Regions from separate parts of the Homo sapiens genome. Here region 1 is linked to region 2. The links come from fine-mapping of genetic effects on gene expression. A gene starts in region 2. The other region holds a variant in brackets. All regions are shown on one strand. Distances are between the middles of the regions.

The links.
Region 1: its variant is fine-mapped to the expression of TMEM33 in blood mononuclear cells (TOPMed, PIP above 0.99).

What each region holds. Positions count from the first base shown.
Region 1 is chr4:41,904,005-41,913,781 of GRCh38, reverse strand. LOC105374426 (a long non-coding RNA gene) reads left to right here. Exons shown (of 3, transcript NR_188374.1): 3 at 2,284-3,335. Among named protein-coding and RNA genes, the nearest start is that of LINC00682, 26 kb to the right of the region's middle. RefSeq lists enhancers at 1-897, 4,339-5,230. The variant A/G (reference allele first, on the strand shown) is at 4,005.
Region 2 is chr4:41,930,808-41,940,584 of GRCh38, reverse strand. TMEM33 (transmembrane protein 33) reads right to left here and starts at 5,156. Exons shown (of 7, transcript NM_018126.3): 1 at 5,056-5,156; 2 at 1,889-1,983; 3 at 1,202-1,389. The coding sequence starts at 5,100. It overlaps LOC105374426 (a long non-coding RNA gene), which reads left to right and starts at 5,910. Exons shown (of 3, transcript NR_188374.1): 1 at 5,910-5,979. RefSeq lists enhancers at 4,767-4,836, 4,847-4,896, 5,137-5,316.

The DNA.
Region 1 (9,777 bases), 27 kb after region 2:
CCAGTGAGTTGAGAGCACTGATTGGTTGAGTTGGAGATGAAATCATGGGAAGTTGAAGATGTCCTCTTGTGCTGAGTCAGTTCCTGGGTGGGGACCACAAGATCAGATGAGCCAGTTTATTGATCTGGGTGTGCCAGCTGATTCATCAAGTGCAGGGTCTGCAAAATATCTGAAGCACTGATGTTAGGAGCAGTTTAGGGAGGGCCAGAATCTTGTAGCCTCCAGCTGCATTACTCTTAAACCATAATTTCTAATCTTGTGCCTAATTTGTTAGTCCTACAAAGGCATTCTTGTCCCCAGGCAAGAAGGTTTGTTTTGGGAGAGGAGTGTTATCATTTTTGTTTTAAACTATAAACTAAGTTCCTCCCAAAGTTAGTTCAGCAGATGCCCAGGAAGGAACAAGTACAGCTTAAAGTTTAGAAAAAAGATGGAGTCAGTTAGGTTAGATGTCTTTCGCTGTCTCAGTCATAACTTTGCAAAGGCCGTTTCAGATAGACCCTCAAAACTAGAAGTCAAAATCCTTTCTTGTAAAATGCAGCTTTAATACATTTCAGGAAAAGCAAGGTGATTTCAGATATAATTATTCTGCTATTGAATATTTAGCTATATCTTCTTTTATCTCATGAAGAAATATATCCAGGCAAATTAAAACTTTTTTCCAACTTTTATTCAGATTTTGATTTGGTGAGCAGGAGCCAGCTAGGCCAAGAGCATATGAACTTGACATGGATTTCTGATGAATAATGTTTCTGCCAAATCTATCTCCTAATTACCCATCTACAGAACTAGGGTGGGCAGAATGGCCTCTTGACAGACCACATTATTTTATTTGTGTTTATGAATGTCGTATGTTAGCACCAGTATTAGGCCGTTCTTGCATTGCTAGAAAGAAATACCTGAGACTGGGTAACTTATAAGAAAAGAGGTTTAATTGGCTCACAGTTCTGCAGGCTGTACAGGAAACAGTGCTGGCATCTGCTTCTGGGGAGGCCTCAGGAAGCTCTTACTCATGGCAGAAGGTGAAGTCGGAGCCGGCACTTCACATGGTGAGAGCAGGAACAAGATGGGGGTGGTGCCACACACATAAACAATCAGATCTCGTGAGAACTCACTCACTATCAGGAGGATAGCACCATGAGGGATTGACCCTCCTGACCCACCAGGCCCTACCTCCAACCAGGCCCAACTTCCAGCACTGGGGATTACAATTCAACTTGGGACTTGGTGGGGACATATATTCAAACCATATCTGCACCAATTCCTTTAATGTATATGTTTATAGTTTGGTTTTCACTTTTGGATGAAAGGAAAGAAATATCTATGTTTTCTCTTAACATTCTAAATAGAAGTGTCCTTCCTTGTAGATAATGACAAAATTGTTCTATTGTCATGAATCAGACAAAGCATTACACGACAAAGTTTCCAATGTCAGCAAGGTGAGGAAATTTTCATTAACTGTGGAAAAAAAAAAAAAGAAAATAATCTGAGGCACTGGTTTTCTAATTTTTAAGTGTTCAATGTTAAGCGAACCTACGCAGTAGGTCAATTTGTTTACATAACCCAGAGGAGTGCTTTGTGGTTAATTCATGTGGTAGGTCCCTAATTATATTGAAGATTATATCCCTAACACCCACCGCAGAGCTGGGCAGGTCATATGCATCCATGAATATTTGCTGAATTGAATTAAAGATGGCCATGTAGAAGCCTGTAGTGTATGGGGCTGTGTCAGAGGGAGAGTAGATGCTGGAGAAGATAGGGGAGTAAAAATTGGGCAAGGAGTGCTCAGCTCAGAATGGCAAGAGTCCTGGAGACATCCGCGCAAAATGCTGAGATGAGTTTAAAGGTCTCTCAGCAATTCTATACTTCAAAATACATACTATGAGCCAGGCGCAGTGGCTCACACCTGTAATCCCAGCACTTTGGGAGGCCGAGGCAGGTGGGTCACTTGAGGTCAGAAGTTCGAGACCAGCCTGTTCAACATGGTGAAACCCCATTTCTACCAAAAAATACAAAAATTAGTCAGGCATGGTGGCACACGCCTGTAATCCCAGCTACTTGGGAGGCTGGGGCAGGAGAATCGCTTGAACCTGGGAGGCAGAGGTTGCAGTGAGCTGCGATCACACCACGTACAACAGCCTGGGTGAAAGGATGAGAATTCGTCTCAAAAAAAAAAAAAAAGAAAGAAAATAAAATATACTATGTAGTAATAAGAAAGCCATTCCTAGTCAATAGAGTGGGCTTAAAAATCTTTAGTATTAAAACATTGTGTGTTTTATTTTGCAGATACAAAGGAAGTTTTTCTCGGCCTGGTCTTGACTTAACAGTGACTTTAGTACTATCCTGTTCAGACACCTCAAGTCTTCAGAAGAAAGCAGATGATGTGAAAGTATATCTAGGTCCCCAAGAGAGATGCAAATTACCAGCTGTATTCCCTCATGTCAGGAAAAAGAGGGTCCCATATATTTCTTGTCTAATACAAAATCGCAGAAGGCTGAAACACATTAACTAGAAAAGAGAATGCAATTTGGATTCAACTACCTGCTGTCATGAAAGGTAACAGTAGTTAATAATGTTTGCAATTCATGGGATGTTAGAGATAAAAGAGTCCTCAAATATCCTCCAGCAAAATCTCTCTCCTTTTACAAATGGACAAACTAAGGACAAGAGAAGAAAGATGAGTCAAGCCTTCAGTCTTATGCTGTGATCTGATGGTGAGCTATAAAATCACTGTCAAGAGAGCCCTTCCAACCACCTGTGCTCCTGGAATTCATGAGGGAAACACATTCCTAAAACAAAACTAGCAACATCAAGATATTACCAAATGCTAGGCCGGGCGCTGTGGCTCATGCCTGTAATCCCAGCAGTTTGGGAGGCCGAGGCGTGTGGATCATGAGGTCAGGAGATCGAGACCATGGCGAAACCCCGTCTCTACTGAAAATACAAAAATTAGCTGGGTGTGGTGGCGGGTGCCCATAGTCCCAGCTACTCGGGAGGCTGAGGCAGGAGAATGCCGTGAACCCGGGAGGCGGAGCTTGCAGTGAGCCGAGATCGCACCACTGCACTCCAGCCTGGGTGACAGAGCAAGACTCTGTCTCAAAAAAAAAAAAAAAAAAAAAAGAAATTACCAAATGCTCTTTTTCCACTCTTATTCTTCAATCTCCAGTAATTTAGCACTCTGTTAACTATATTATAATCTAAAAAGTTCAGGAATAAGCTGGGCACTGTGGTTCAAGCCTGTAGTCCCAGCACTTTGCAGATCACTTGAGCCAAGGAGTTCAAGACCAGCCTGGGCAACCTGATGAAAGCACGTCTCTACCAAAAAAAAAAAAAAAAAATTAGCCTGGTATGGTGGTGTGAGCCTGTAGTCGTAGCTACTCGGGAGGCTGAGGTGGGAGGATCACTTGAGCCCAGGAGCTGGAGGCTTCAGTGAGCCATGATTGCTCTACTGCACTGCAGCCTGGGCAAAAGAATGAGAGCCTGTCTCAAAAAAAAATCTACTGTAGGGGTGGCTGGCAAGATAGCCAAATAGGAAGAGCTTTGGCCTACACCTCCCAGCAGAAGGTAAGTGATTTCTGCATTTCCTTTTTTTTTTTTTTTTTTTTGAGATGGTGTTTCACTCTCGTTGCCCAGGCTGGAGTGCAGTGGTGTGATCTCGGCTCACTGCAACCTCTGCCTCCTAGGTTCAGGCAATTACCCTGCCTCAGCCTACCGAGTAGCTGGGATTACAGGCATGTGCCATCACGCCTGGCTAATTTTGTATTTTTAGGAGAGACGGGGTTTCACCATGTTGGCCGGCTAGTCTAGAACTCCTGACGTCAGGCCATCCACCCACATCATCCTCTCAAAATGTTGGGATTACAGGCATGAACCACCACACCTGGCCTGCATTTCCAGCTGAGGTACACAGCCCACCTCACTGGGACTGGTTACACAGTGGGTGCAGCCCACGGAGGGCAAGCTGAAGCAGGGTGGGGTGTCACCTCACCTGGGAAGTGCAAGGGGTC[A/G]GGGAACTCCTTCCCCTAGCCAAGGGAAGCCACGAGGGACTGTGCTGTGAGGAATGGTGCATTCCAGCCCAGATACTACACTTTTCCCATGGTCTTGGCAACCTGCAGACCAGGAGATTCCCTTGGGTGCCTATGCCACCAGGGCCCTGGGTTTCAAGCACAAAACTTGGAGACCATTTGGGCAGACACCGAGCTAGCTGCAGGAGTTTTTTTTTTTTTTTCGTACCTCAGTGGCACCTGGAATGCCAGCCAGACACAACCTTCACTCCCCAGGAAAGGGGGCTGAAGCCAGGGAGCCAAGTGGTCTAGCTCAGCAAATCTCACCACCATGGAGCCCAGAAAGCTGAGATCCACTGGCTTGAAATTCTCACTGCCAGCACAGGAGTCTGAAGTTGACCTGGGATGCTTGACCTTGGTTGGGGGAGGGGCATCCACCATTACTGAGGCATGAGTAGGTGGTTTTCCCCTCATAGTGTAAACAAAGCTGCTGGGAAGTTTGAACTGGGTGGAGCCCACTGCAGCTCGACAAAGCCTCTGTAGCTAGATTGCCTCTCCAGATTCCTCCTCTCTGGGCAGGGCATCTCTGAAAGAAAGGCAGCAGCCCCAGTCAGGGGCTTCTAGATAAAACTACCATCTCCCTGGGACAGAGCACCTGGGGGAAGGGGCTACTGCGGGCACAGCTTCAGCAGACTTAAATGTTCCTGCTTGCCAGCTCTGAAGAGAGCAGTGGATCTACCAAGCACAGTGCTCGAGCTCTGATAAGGGACAGACTGCCTCCTCAAGTGGGTCCCTGACCCCCGTGTCTCCTTATGGGGAGACACCTCCCAGCAGGGGTCAACAGACACCTCATACAGGAGAGCTCTGGCTGGCATCTGGCGGGTGACCCTCTGGGATGAAGTTTCCAGACAAGGAACAGGCAGCAATCTTTGCTGTTCTGCAGCATCCACTGTTGATACCCAGGCAAACAGGGTCTGGAGTGGACCTCCAGCAAACTCCAGCAGACCTGCAGCAGAGAGGCCTGACTGTTAGAAAGAAAACTAAAAAACAGAAAGGAATAGCATCAACATCAACAAAAAGGATGTCCACATAAAAACCCCATCCACAGGTCACTAACATCAAAGACCAAAGGTAGATAAATCCACGAAGATGAGGAAAAACCAGTGCAAAAAGGCTGAAAATTCCAAAAACCAGAACACCTCTTCCCTCCAAAGGATCACAACTTCTTGCCAGCAAGGGAACAAAACTGGACAGAGAATGAGTTTGACGAATTGACAGAAGAAAGTTTCAGCAGATGGGTAAAAAAAACTCCTGCAAGCTAAAGGAGCATGTTCTTTTTTTTTATTTTTTTATTTTTTATTTTATTTTATTATTATTATACTTTAAGTTTTAGGGTACATGTTCACAATGTGCCGGTTAGTTACATATGTATACATGTGCCATGCTGGTGTGCTGCACCCATTAACTCGTCATTTAGCATTAGGTATATCTCCTAATGCTATCCCTCCCCCCTCCCCCCACCCCAAAACAGTCCCCAGAGTGTGATGTTCCCCTTCCTGTGTCCATGTGTTCTCATTGTTCAATTCCCACCTGTGAGTGAGAACATGTGGTGTTTGGGTTTTTTGTCCTTGTGCTAGTTTACTGAGAATGATGATTTCCAATTTCATCCATGTCCCTACAAAGGACATGAACTCATCATTTTTCATGGCTGCATAGTATTCCATGGTGTATATGTGCCACATTTTCTTAATCCAGTCTATCATTGTTGGACATTTGGGTTGGTTCCAAGTCTTTGCTATTGTGAATAATGCTGCAATAAACATATGTGTGCATGTGTCTTTATAGCAGCATGATTTATAGTCCTTTGGGTATATACCCAGTAATGGGACGGCTGGGTCAAATGGTATTTCTAGTTCTAGATCCCTGAGGAATCGCCACACTGACTTCCACAATGGTTGAACTAGTTTACAGTCCCACCAACAGTGTAAAAGTGTTCCTATTTCTCCACATCCTCTCTAGCACCTGTTGTTTCCTGACTTTTTAATGATTACCATTCTAACTGGTGTGAGATGGTATCTCATTGCGGTTTTGATTTGCATTTCTCTGATGGCCAGTGACGGTGAGCATTTTTTCATGTGTTTTTTGGCTGCATAAATGTCTTCTTTTGAGAAGTGTCTGTTCATGTCCTTCGCCCACTTTTTGATGGGGTTGTTTGTTTTTTTCTTGTAAATTTGTTTGTGTTAATTGTAGATTCTGGATATTAGCCCTTTGTCAGATGAGTAGGTTGCAAAAATTTTCTCCCATGTTGTAGGTTGCCTGTTCACTCTGATGGTAGTTTCTTTTGCTGTGCAGAAGCTCTTCAGTTTAATTAGATCCCATTTGTCGATTTTGGCTTTTGTTGCCATTGCTTTTGGTGTTTTAGACATGAAGTCCTTGCCCATGCCTATGTCCTGAATGGTAATGCCTAGTTTTTCTTCTAGGGTTTTTATGGTTTTAGGTCTAACGTTTAAGTCTTTAATCCATCTTGAATTGATTTTTGTATAAGGTGTAAGGAAGGGATCCAGTTTCAGCTTTCTACATATGGCTAGCCAGTTTTCCCAGCACCATTTATTAAATAGGGAATCCTTTCCCCATTGCTTGTTTTTGTCAGGTTTGTCAAAGATCAGATAGTTGTAGATATGCGGCGTTATTTCTGAGGGCTCTGTTCTGTTCCATTGATCTATATCTCTGTTTTGGTACCAGTACCATGCTATTTTGGTTACTGTAGCCTTGTAGTATAGTTTGAAGTCAGGTAGCCTGATGCCTCCAGTTTTGTTCTTTTGGCTTAGGATTGACTTGGTGATGCGGGCTCTTTTTTGGTTCCATATGAAATTTAAAGTAGTTTTTTCCAATTCTGTGAAGAAAGTCATTGGTAGCTTGATGGGGATGGCATTGAATCTATAAATTACCTTGGGCAGTATGGCCATTTTCACGATATTGATTCTTCCTACCCATGAGCATGGAATGTTCTTCCATTTGTTTGTATCCTCTTTTATTTCATTGAGCAGTGGTTTATAGTTCTCCTTGAAGAGGTCCTTCACGTCCCTTGTAAGTTGGATTCCTAGGTATTGTATTCTCTTTGAAGCAATTGTGAATGGGAATTCACTCATGATTTGGCTCTCTGTTTGTCTGTTATTGGTGTATAGGAATGCTTGTGATTTTTGTACATTGATTTTGTATCCTGAGACTTTGCTGAAGTTGCTTATCAGCTTAAGGAGATTTTGGGCTGATACAATGGGGTTTTCTAGATATACAATCATGTCATCTGCAAACAGGGACAATTTGACTTCCTCTTTTCCTAATTGAATACCCTTTATTTCCTTCTCCTGCCTAATTGCCCTGGCCAGAACTTCCAACACTATGTTGAATAGGAGTGGTGAGAGAGGGCATCCCTGTCTTGTGCCAGTTTTCAAAGGGAATGCTTCCAGTTTTTTCCCATTCAGTATGATATTGGCTGTGGGCTTGTCATAGATAGCTCTTATTATTTTGAGATACGTCCCATCAATACCTAATTTACTGAGAGTTTTTAGCATGAAGCGTTGTTGAATTTTGTCAAAGGCCTTTTCTGCATCTATTGAGATAATCATGTGGTTTTTGTCTTTGGTTCTGTTTATATACTGGATTACATTTATTGATTTGCATATATTGAACCAGCCTTGCATCCCAGGGATGAAGCCCACTTGATCATGGTGGATAAGCTTTTTGATGTGCTGCTGGATTCGTTTTGCCAGTATTATATTGAGGATTTTTGCATCAATGTTCATCAAGGATATTGGTCTAAAATTCTCTTTTTTGGTTGTGTCTCTGCCAGGCTTTGGTATCAGGATGATGCTGGCCTCATAAAATGAGTTAGGGAGGATTCCCTCTTTTTCTATTGATTGGAATAGTTTCAGAAGGAATGGTACCAGTTCCTCCATGTACCTCTGGTAGAATTCGGCTGTGAATCCATCTGGTCCTGGACTCTTTTTGGTTGGTAAGCTATTGATTATTGCCTCAATTTCAGAGCCTGTTATTGGAGTATTCAGAGATTCAACTTCTTCCTGGTTTAGTCTTGGGAGGGTGTATGTGTCGAGGAATTTATCCATTTCTTCTAGATTTTCTAGTTTATTTGCGTAGAGGTGTTTGTAGTATTCTCTGATGGTAGTTTGTATTTCTGTGGGATCGGTGGTGATATCCCTAAAGGAGCATGTTCTAACCCAATGCAAGGAAGCTAAGAACCTTGAAAAAAGGTTAGAGAAATTGCTAACTAGAATAACCAGTTTAGAGAAGAACATAAATGACCTGATGGAGCCAAAAAACACAGCACAAGAACTTTCTGAAGCATACACAAGTATCAATAGCCAAATCAATCAAGTGGAAGAAAGGATATTAGAGATTGAAGATCAACTTAATGAGATAAAGCGTGAAGACAAGATTAAAGGAAGAAGAATGAAAAAGAATGAACAAAGTTTCCAAGAAATATGAGACTACGTGAAAAGACCAAACCTACGTTTGATTTCCCTGAAAATGATGGGGAGAATGGAACCTAGTTGTAAAACACTCTTCAGGAGATTATCCAGGAGAACTTCCCCAACCTAGCAACACAGGCCAATATTCAAATTCAGGAAATACAGAGAACACCACAAGGATACTCCAGGAGAAGAGCAACCTCAAGACACATAATCATCAGATTCACCAAGGTTGAAGTGAAGGAAAAAATGTTAAGGGCATCCAGAGAGACAGGTCGGGTTATCCACAAAGGGAAGCCCATCAGACTAACAGTGGATCTCTCTGAAGAAACCTACAAGCCAGAAGAGAGTGGGGGCCAATATTCAACATTCTTAAAGAAAAGAATTTTTAACCCAGAATTTCATATCCAGCCAAACTAAGCTTCATAAGTGAAGGAGAAATAAAATCCTTTACAGATAAGCAAATGCTGAGAGATTTTGTCACCACCAGTCCTGCCTTACAAGAGCTCCTGAAGGAAGCACTAAATATAGAAAGGACAATCAGTACCAGCCACTGCAAAAACATACCAAATTGTAAAGACCATTAACACTATGAAGAAACTGCATCAACTAATGGGCAAAATAACCAGCTAGCATCATAACGACAGGATCAAACTAACACATAACAATGTTAACCTTAAATGCAAATGGGCTAAATGCCCCAATTAAAAGACACAGACTGGCAGATTGGATAAAGAGTCAAGACCTATTGGTGTGCTGTATTCAGGAGACCCATCTCATGTGCAAAGACACATGTAAGCTCAAAATAAAAGAATGGAGGAATATTTACCAAGCAAATGGAAAGCAAAAGCAAACAAACAAAATAAAGCAGGGGTTGCAATCCTAGTCTCTGATAAAACAGACTTTAAACCAACAAAGATAAAAAAAGACAAAGAAGGGCATTACATAATGGTAAAGTGATCAATGCAACAAGAAGAGCTAACTATCCTAAATATATATGCACCCAATACAGGAGCACCCAGATTCATAGAGCAAGTTCTTAGAGACCTACAAAGAGACTTAGACTCCCACACAATAATAGTGGGAGACTTTAACACTCCACTGTCAATATTAGACAGATCAACGAGACAGAAAATTAACAAGGATATTCGAGACTTGAACTCACCTCTGGACCAAGCAGACCTAATAGACACCTACAGAACTCCCCACCCCAAATCGACAGAATATACGTTCTTCTCAGCACCACATAGCACTTATTCTAAAATTGATGACATAATTGGATGTAAAAC
Region 2 (9,777 bases):
GCCCACCTCAGCCTCCCAAAGTGCCACCGCACGTGAGCCACCGCGCCTGGCCTAAATTCAAGTTCTTATACTGGCAAAATAGGTGCTCAGGAAATTTCGGTTTCCTCCTATTTCTTTTCCTTAAGACTTATAAAAATCTATTTAAAAATTTGATACTTCATGAGCATAGGTATCTAAATAGGTAATATTCAGTCTCAGAGGAATATTTTATTGTGCTTTACATAACATACAGATGTATCATAAATATTCAAAAGCTCTTAGACCAGCACTTCTCAATGCACAAAATGATTTGCAGAGATAATCTACAGGAAAAAAAACAACCACAAATTTAAGTTTAAAAAACCCTACTAACTCTCTTAGTTTCACAACACACGTTAGAATACCAAAGCCACTATAGTAAAGAACCCTATTTAAAAATGTTTGACCTGGCTGGGCGTGATGGCTCACGCCTATAATCCCAGCACTTTGGGAGGCAGAGGCAGGTGGCCTGGGCAACAGAGCAAGACTCTGTCTCAAAAAAAAAAAAAAAAAAAAAAAAGAAAGTTTAACCTAGTGTTCACTATAGAACCTCTTCCCCATTTTTCCCCTCCTTTATGGACTACCCAGTATCATCCCACAACACACCTTTGAAATGTGAAAACATACAAATTCCAAATGAATTATTTCTCATTAGCTTCACGGATTATCCATGTGTGTCCTTATTTTCTACTCTATACACAGCAAATATTAATTTCTTTGTATTGATTATCTCATTACCTGCTTAAATAAGTTGTTTCTTGGTTAAATTCCATTTGTATCTAGTTCACTGGGGTTAAGATGGAAAGAGCTGAGGACCTCTCTTTTTTAAAGCAAGACATCTGGACACTTTGCCAAAAACGTGAATTAAATGAAAAAAATGTAAATATTAAAGTAAGTTCTGCGTAAGGTTGTGCTTCGAAGGGGAATTTGAAAATATCCATTCTAATAGGGAAGCTTACAAGAGGCAAGAACAAAGATAGTTTAAAATTCCTAAATCAGCTCTTCAAAGTTTAGATTTCACATTTTAAAGTCAGAAATTCTTACACTAAACATATCTTCATTCAAATGAAGTGCCGAGAACAAACCCAGGCTTCATGGAATGCCTTCATTGCTGAAATAATCAGAAGAGATCTCCTATATGCTTAGTTGGCAATTTCATTGTTAACAAGGTAGAAAAGGATACTTGTAACTGGATAGGAATTTACAAAGATGAGTGAATACAACAGGTAGTGGCAGCTGTCCTCTAACAAAGCCTGGGCCAGGAATGCTCTGCTTAACTGGAAGTGTGGTAATCTTTGATGCAGCCTCAGAGCACTGGTAAGAGCATTTGCCAGCAAAGCACGTTGGTAAAAGCTTGCTGCTTCATGCAACCTGCAAATTACCAGAGGAGAGGTTATCATGAGACATAAACAACTGCAGTGTCTCTTCCTCCTTTGTGAATTGCATCATAATTGCACAACACCTAAATCACTTGTCAATAGAAAAAAATTACATGAACTTATTCTACCGTTTTAATAGCTTCACTTCATATATATGCCCAACTGAATTTCTTATAATCAATTTATAAAATTGAATTTTATAAAGCAGGACCTTCCTGTCAAGTAATAAGTAAAAATGAAAAAAACATGAACTTATCTCATTCCCACACATCAATTTTTCCTTGGATTTTCAATGTGTTAGTTTCACAAAGCACAAGATATAAAATATTCCTCTGATAATGTTATTAGGTTGTTAGTACCTGAAGGCTGGAACTTGTATTTTATTTGTCCCTAAACCCTTTACAGGTTAATAAGTCTTACACCTAAAAGGCACTCCATATAAACTGACTCAACAATTGAATATCAAAGGCAGCAATATGTATAATACATACCCAAGAAGAGGCAGAACAAACAGAGCAGAGCAGTAAACTGTGAACAAGCGAGAAAGCCACATTGCCGTGTCCAGTTTATTGGTCATCATGAATTGCTAAATTTAAAAAGAAAAATACTGTAAGCTATGCCTGCAAATCATGTTTTTAAGCATCAAGACTGTGTGGTTTTTATGTCTACTCAAAATATTTTAATCTTCCTCCATTTGTTTTTTTAGATCATTAGGTGAAAACTCTAAGGCAATTACATGTTTCATGTATATGCTTAATGAGAAGTCCAAACACCTTATAGTTTTCATGTGGAAAGCACAAGAAGTACTTAAACAGAAATAAATAGAAAAATATCAGCTGACATTTTAAAAAAATGCAAAGACTAATTAATTAGAAAAAATAATCTTAACAGAAATTCAACTACAATTGTCTGTGTTCCTTTAACACTTGCAATATTGGCTTCATCTATTTTAAAAGAACATTAAACAAAAACTAATTGCTCTCAAGAGATCCATATGCCTATTCTTAGCAAAAAATCTCAAATCCGAATAGGTAGGTCTCAGAGCTGAGTAAAACATCACATAAAGCCAGTTGGGATTAAAGAAACCTTTTGAAGAAGAAATATAAAACCATGATAGTAGTAACAACTAAACTCATTCGCCTTGTAATCTGCCTACATGCACAAGGGCCTGGCATACTCTAGGTGCTCAAAATGTGGCTGACAGGTATTAAATGGCCACCTGCCTCTCTGATTACACCACTCTCTTTATCACCTCCATGTTCCCCCACAAGTCTTACCCTAGTTTCGGTGGTCCTAGATTAAACTTTCCTATACCATTTTCTTCCCCCATTTTTTTCCCATTCTATCTTTCCTTTGCTGCTTTCCCCCCAATACTTATGTCTATTACCACTAAAGCAGAATCTTAAAATGTGTTTTCTCATTAAAATGTATCTTATATTCAAAAGTGGCTTTTACATTTTTTGTCTAGGATCTTCGTAATTTTAACATTGAGATCCATATACATGGATATATAAACAAAAGTTTCACAAATATTTACCCTACTGTATATAATGGATTTTGACATTTTCTATTTAATTTTTTAAAAATAGCTGGTGTTTACACTAAACTGACTTCTCAACTCACTAATGGGTCTACCTGAAGTCTAAAAACACTGCTCTATGTAATTTAATTTCATTATCTTTTGAAAAAAAAATATAAAAAATTTGAGGGAAAAATCCAAGTACATTGTAAAATTCCAGGCTGTTTTATTTTATGTCTTTTTAACCCACATGTAGGTAATTTCAGAAATATGAAATACAACTTTGATTTATCATTAAATCCAGACTTACCGTACTGTGACTCCAATAAACTGAAATGATTAGCAGTAATCAAGTGAAGGATGAATCCAGCTTACTGTGCTCAGTTTCTCAACAAATATTATGACTGGGCACCACAGCTTGAAAGTTAGTTTTAGAACATTCTCCTTAAAATCTATTTGTTCAGGTTGTTTATTCTGCAATAAATCATTGAGCTATGCGTTTCATTTTGTACACACTTATGTATATTATACAATTTTAAAAGTTTAAGAAAGTCTATTGGTATACATTTTTTAAGAGTAAACTGTCCAACCATCAGGCAAAAAAAAAAAAAAATCACTAGATCTTTGGGTGAAAAATTGTTGAGGAGCAATATTCACACAGTGTCACAGTATCATGCCAAAGAACACTTTTTAATTAGAAAGGAAAAAAGGTATCTTTACAATGGAGAAACTGGTGGACACCACCTTAATCAAATAATCAAACAAATTCTGCAATGATGGGATAAATCAATGTAAAATGCTTCCTGATATATAATATAGATATACATATTAGATGTACCTATATATGCTGCAAAACATGTCTGGACTCTTGAAAACTATCAGTATCTTAAAAGACAAAAAAGGGGAGGAGAGGGCAGAACTGTTCTAGATTAAAAGGCAGTAAACAAGATATGGCCAGTAAATTGAATGCATGCTTTCTGAGATAGGGTCTCGCTCTGTCACCCCAGGCTGGAGCGCAAAAGCACAACCCACCTCAGCCTCCTGAGTAGCTGGGACTATGCTGGGACTATAGGAGCGCACCTCCACGACCGGCTAATTTATGTTTGTTTGTTTGTTTGTTTGTTTTGAGAGAAGGTTTTGCTCTATCACCCAGGCTGGAGTGCAGTGGCGCGATCTTGGCTCACGGCAGCTTCAACTTCTCGGGCGCAAGCGATCCACCCGCCTTGGCCTCCCAAAGTGCTGAGATTACAGGCGTGAGCCACCACGCCCCGCCTAATTTCTTTGATTTCTAGTAGAGATGAGGTCTCGCTATGTTTCCAAGGCTGGTCTCTAACTCCTGAACTCAAGCGATCCTCCCGCCTTGGACTCCCAAAGTTCTGGGCTTACAGGAGTGAGCCACTGCGCCAGCCCATCGATGCATGCTTTTTGACAGAATCCCAGATGAAGAGAAAGCAGCTTTAAAGGACAATTATGGAAATTTGCACATGGATTTTATATTAGGTAATATTTCCCAAATGTGGTAACTGCATTGTGGTCACACAGAATAATACTTAACTACTTATGGATTAAAAAGTAGAGGACAGCAATGCTCCGGGCACAAATAACTTGTTAGCTCCAGATCAGCATCTTAAAAAAATTACAAAAGCATAATGATATTTCTCTTCATAAAGAACAAAGTGAAGAAGAAAAAGACCACCGCTCTCCTCCCTTTGCATAATTTCTATATACGATTGTATAAACTAGGCAGAAACGTTCTTTGCCGGCACTCGTGTGCTCCACGTGGTGTGTGTCATGGATCATGTGTGTCATGGCACAATCTCATGCGGCATCTTTAACCTTGGGGCCTACGGTAAACAAAAGACCGAGGTGGGAGAAGAGGAAAGAAGGCCCAATTTCCATGGCATACAGGTGGGGGCCACCAGCTCCAGGTCAGCCTATTGTCGCTTCAGAAACAAACTTGTAGTTCCCTCCATATCTTCGCTCAGGACCTCCCCTCTCCCCGCTCCAACTTCCCCACCCCAACTCATTAATCCCATTCCTGAATGCACTGAGCTTCTGGAACGCCTCGGGACTCGCAACGCTTCCTGCTTCTTCCTAACTCTTGCAAATCAAGCCAGACTACCCTGCCCTCGCACTTACCACAGCGCCCGCCCCTTGGGGGCCGTTCGGGGTCGTATCTGCCATGGGGGCTCACACTAGCGTCTGCGACGCCGCAACCGCGAAGAGAGAAGAAAGGGGAGAGAAAACGTCAGCGCTGGGGCCAGGACCCGGGTACCGGCTTCCCTGCCTCGCGCCACACACAGGCCGGATGCACCCTGCCGGAACTCTGAGCCTCCACCAGGGAAGGGTCTCGCTCGCCTGGTGCAGCCGACTGGATCCAGGGCACCCGCAGCAGCCGGGAGGTACCTGTCCCGCACCGCCGAGATCAAAGCGGTGTTTCCAGAAAGACGGGAGCGAAGGTGGAGCTTCGGGGTGAAGCCCTAAAGAGCCAACCTACGCCGCCGGCTCCAGGTTATTGCCGAACCCGGAAGTGCTCCTTTCATTTCCGTGGGGAAGAGGCGGTGACAAAGAGGGGGAAACGGGAGCGGTGCCCAGAGGCATGACGGGAAGTGTGGTTTTTTTCTCCTAATTTGAGCCCCACCTGTCCTTCCGCCGATTGGCCCAGTGAGCTAAGAAATCAGGATGGGGGAGCAACTTTTGCATTAAATACAGCTCACAAATGATCTTTCCTGCCCATTCTCAAACCATGAAATTTCCGCACTTCCTGATATAGAGGCCTCAGAAACATCTTTGATTCCTTTCTCCAGGGGCTTACTAAGCCCGTTGGTTCTACGTCTATTATTAATTCTTTCAATAAGTATTTATGAGGCCTGCTATGTGACAGGCTCCATACTTGGCACGGCGGATAAAAAGAGGAATATGACACAGATTGCAAAAGAGAAACAAGTAAACGGAAATCAGAGCATAGTGATTGTGTAATATGTGTAGAGGCTGATTTAATCACAGGGAGCACAGAGGACGGTACCTAAATCAGAAGGGATCTGGGGAGGTTTCCTGGAAAAGGTAAGTCCGGGCCTTGATCTTGAACGACAAAAAGTTGGCTGAAAGTGTTACTGGTGTAGGGTGTCCAAGTTCTTGGCGTTTTGAACATAGAATTGGACAAAACGCACAAAGCAAGGAAAGAATAAAGCAACAAAAGCAGAGATTTGTTGAAAATGAAAGTACACTCCAGAGTGTGGGAGAGTGAGACAGCAGCTCAAGGGCCCTGGATACAGAGTCTTCTCGGGTCCAAATACCCCCTAGAGGTTTCCCATTGGCCACTTGGAGTTCACTTCATGTAAATGAAGTGGTGGCCCGCAATCAGTCTGAATGGTTGCGCAAAGCAACCAATCAGAGGCTGAAGAAGTTACAAAGTTACACTTCTATGCAAACGTCTGATTGGTTACAAAAAGCAACCAATCAGAGGTACTTTCAATTTCCCAAATCTGCGCAGAACAGGTTGGGGCTTGCAAAGGGAGTAGTATCTGGCCCTTTATTCACTTAAGCGTGGACAGTAAGGATTTTCCTTCAATTTAGTTCTAGGAAGTCAGCGAGAAAGGGCATTAGGTTCCCTACCGCCATACCATATTCTTCTGCCTTAAAACGGGAAGGGAACTCCATACAGAGTAACAGAAAGTGCAAGAAGTAACAGGACAGCGAGAGGACTAGTTGAGTGTGACCAGAATGATGGTACCAGTCAGGGGATTGTGAAAGATTTGCGCTAGAGAGGCAGGCAGGGGTGTACTGAGGAAAGGATCTGAACTTGACCCTGAAATCCAGAGAACCATGGAACAATTTTAATCAGAAGTGTGACATCCTGAGATTTAGAAAGTTCTCTCTGGCAACAGGGTGGAGGATGAACAGAGGGGCAAATTAAAAGTCAGGAAATTCGTTGTGAAGCCATTTATATATATATAAACTAAAAATAAAATCCTAAGTAAGGGGTCTGTCGACTGACTGGATAGATCCCTTTCTTGGCCAAGGGGACCCCAGCCATGATGGGACAGGAGATCAGACATGCCTCATTATACCCCCTCCCTTTTGTAGTTTAGACACAACTGACTAGCAACTACTTAGGCGTGGAAAGTTAGGGTTTTCCTTTCAAATTAGTTCTAGGAAGTCAGCCTATGTTTAACATGTTAATGTTACAATAAAGATCATAACATTGACAGAACAAACTCTTTGTGGGAATAGGATACCAAATTATAAACAGGACCTAAGGCCATGCCAGGCAAGGGTTAAGTCATGCACCCCCTACACTTAAAAAATAAACTATGTTCTACCACAAGAGGTTTTTTTTTTCCCTCTGGCAGCTAAACAACCACTGGCCTAGAGAGAAGCAATATTAAAACAATTACAACTAATCCAGCTCACAGACACTAACTGAACCCCTGCTATACCAACCATAGCTACAGCTTTGATTGCACAAGAGACTGATTTCAGTAACGTTCTCCAGATAAGACCACTGACCATAGGCTGGTTCTGGCCACTTTACAGAGGCCATGCACTTGTGTGCCTTCGTCTCTGCTTCACCTTTTGAGGTACAGAGCCTAACTGTAATACATTAAATATTAAGTCTCCACCCCAAGGTGAACACAGGTTGTATGTAACATGCATGTTGTTCCATACGCATGTATCAGGACTACTTTTATGAATATTCATAGCTCTTCCTGTAACCTGTTGAATATGTATGTTTAGCCAACCTATTCAGCATAAAGCTCCTACCCCAGCTCCTCTTCCTTTAAAGTGCCTGTCTCTGGTCCTTGCTGGAGGCTGTGCTTCCCAGCCCATGAGAGGGCCACCTTGCAGGCTGTATCTCCTTATAAGAAATAAAGTCTCCTTTTCTGAACATATAGATCTTGTGAGTTTTAAGTTAACACATACGTGTAGGAAAGAAGTGATGAGATTCTGGATTGAGGCAGTGTTGTTGGGGAAAAGAAGAGGAAAGATGACTTGGAGGTGGCTTCTAAGATGTGGTGACTAACTAGGTATGGGTGTGTAGGAAGGGGAATGCCATCTGCTGAGACCTGAAGAAGTGTAGAAAAAAATGCATGAGAAGAGCAGTAGATTGAGAATCAAATATGAAGGGGCTAGGGAGAGGGAGTGGACTGGGGACCCACGGGAAAGCTGGCACCCTGTCGGAAAACCATGAGACTGTAATGCTCTTCCTCTGTCAGATGTGTGGTTATCCTCTAGTATCCATGGGCAGACCAGGTGCTAGTCAGATGCAGCCGAGAAATCAAATGGGGTTCTCTTGAAACAGTACAAACCTCTTTTTCTAAGGCCACTGCCCAAGTTCAGGTCCTTCAGATCTCTAGCCTGGATTACTCATCCTCCTAGCTGAGCTAAAATGCCACCTCCTCTGCACTCTTCCCATATCATTTACTCCATATTTTTATAGCAGTTACATTTTTTAACATTTCTTAGAATTATATGTCTCCTTGCCAGTGTGTGTGTTTGTGTGTGTCTATGGCAGTCAACTCAGGCTGTCATAACGAAATACCATAAAGTGGGTAGCATAAGCAACACAAATTTGTTTTCTCACAGTTCTGGAGACTGAGAGGTTTAAGATTAAGGTGCCAACAAGGTAAGTTTCATTTTAGCCGCTGGCAGCTGCCATTTTCTGTGTGCTCAATTTAGGAGGAGGTAAATGATCTCTGTCTTCCTCTCTTCCCCTTCTTATAAGGTCGCCAGTTCTATCGGATTAGGACCCCATCCTTATAACTTAAGTTAGCCTTAATTACTTCCTAAAGATCCTGTTTCCAAATATATACAGTCACATGAGGGTTAGGGTCTTGACATATGAATTTTGAGGGACACAATTCAGTCCATAGCTATATATATTTTATATATATGTATGTAAGTACATATTTTTTTACTGATTTAAAGGATCATCTTATTACAAAAATATTAAAATACAAAATGTTCTCTATTGTAAATTCCATATAGCTAATTAATCTCACAGATACTTCTTTTGATTTTGCTGAACTCTTATATCCATAGCAATATACAGTTGCCATTGATGAATGAGTGTAATTTCATGAATGTTTCTTGATATTTTTGTTAAAGAGTAAAATGAAAGTGAAACAACTAAGACACATATCTTCAACTTTGCATATTAAAATAATTGCAAGTTTACTCTCCTAAGTAGTTGTATTTAGTGTATGAGAATAGCCCTAATCCCTGCCAAAATTTGCTATTTTTAGTTCTTACCAAGATTAGGTATATAAAATGGTATGTCATTTTTTCAATTTGCATTTTCGTGAGTAGTAGTGAGGCTTAGCATCTTTTCACAACTTTATTGGCCATTCAGATTTTCTCTCCTGTTGGCTTTTTTTTTTGAGACACAGTCTTGAGCTGTCGCCCAGGCAGGAGTGCAATGGCGCAGTCTCGACTTGCTGCAGCCTCCACCTCCCAGGTTCAAATGATTATCCTGCCTCAGCCTCCTAAGTAGCTGGGATTACAGGTGCCTGCTACCACGCTGGGCTAATTTTTTGTATTTTTAGTAGAGATGGGGTTTCAGTATGTTGGCCAGGCTGGTCTCAAACTCCAGACCTCGTGATCTACCCGCCTCAGCCTCCCAAAGTGCTGGGATTATAGGCGTGAGCCGCTGTGCCTGGCCTCTGTTGCCTCTTTTCTATTGAGCTGTTTGTCTTTTGTTGTGGTCCATTATTATTGATTTGTCGGCATTTTAAAAAGTTTTGTTAAAATTGTGTTTTGATACTAGTTTTTTGTTATATTGTTACTGGTAGAGGGTCTTGACTGCAAGTTGTCCAGATTCTTGGCATTTTGAACAAAGAATTGGACAAAACGCCCAGCAAA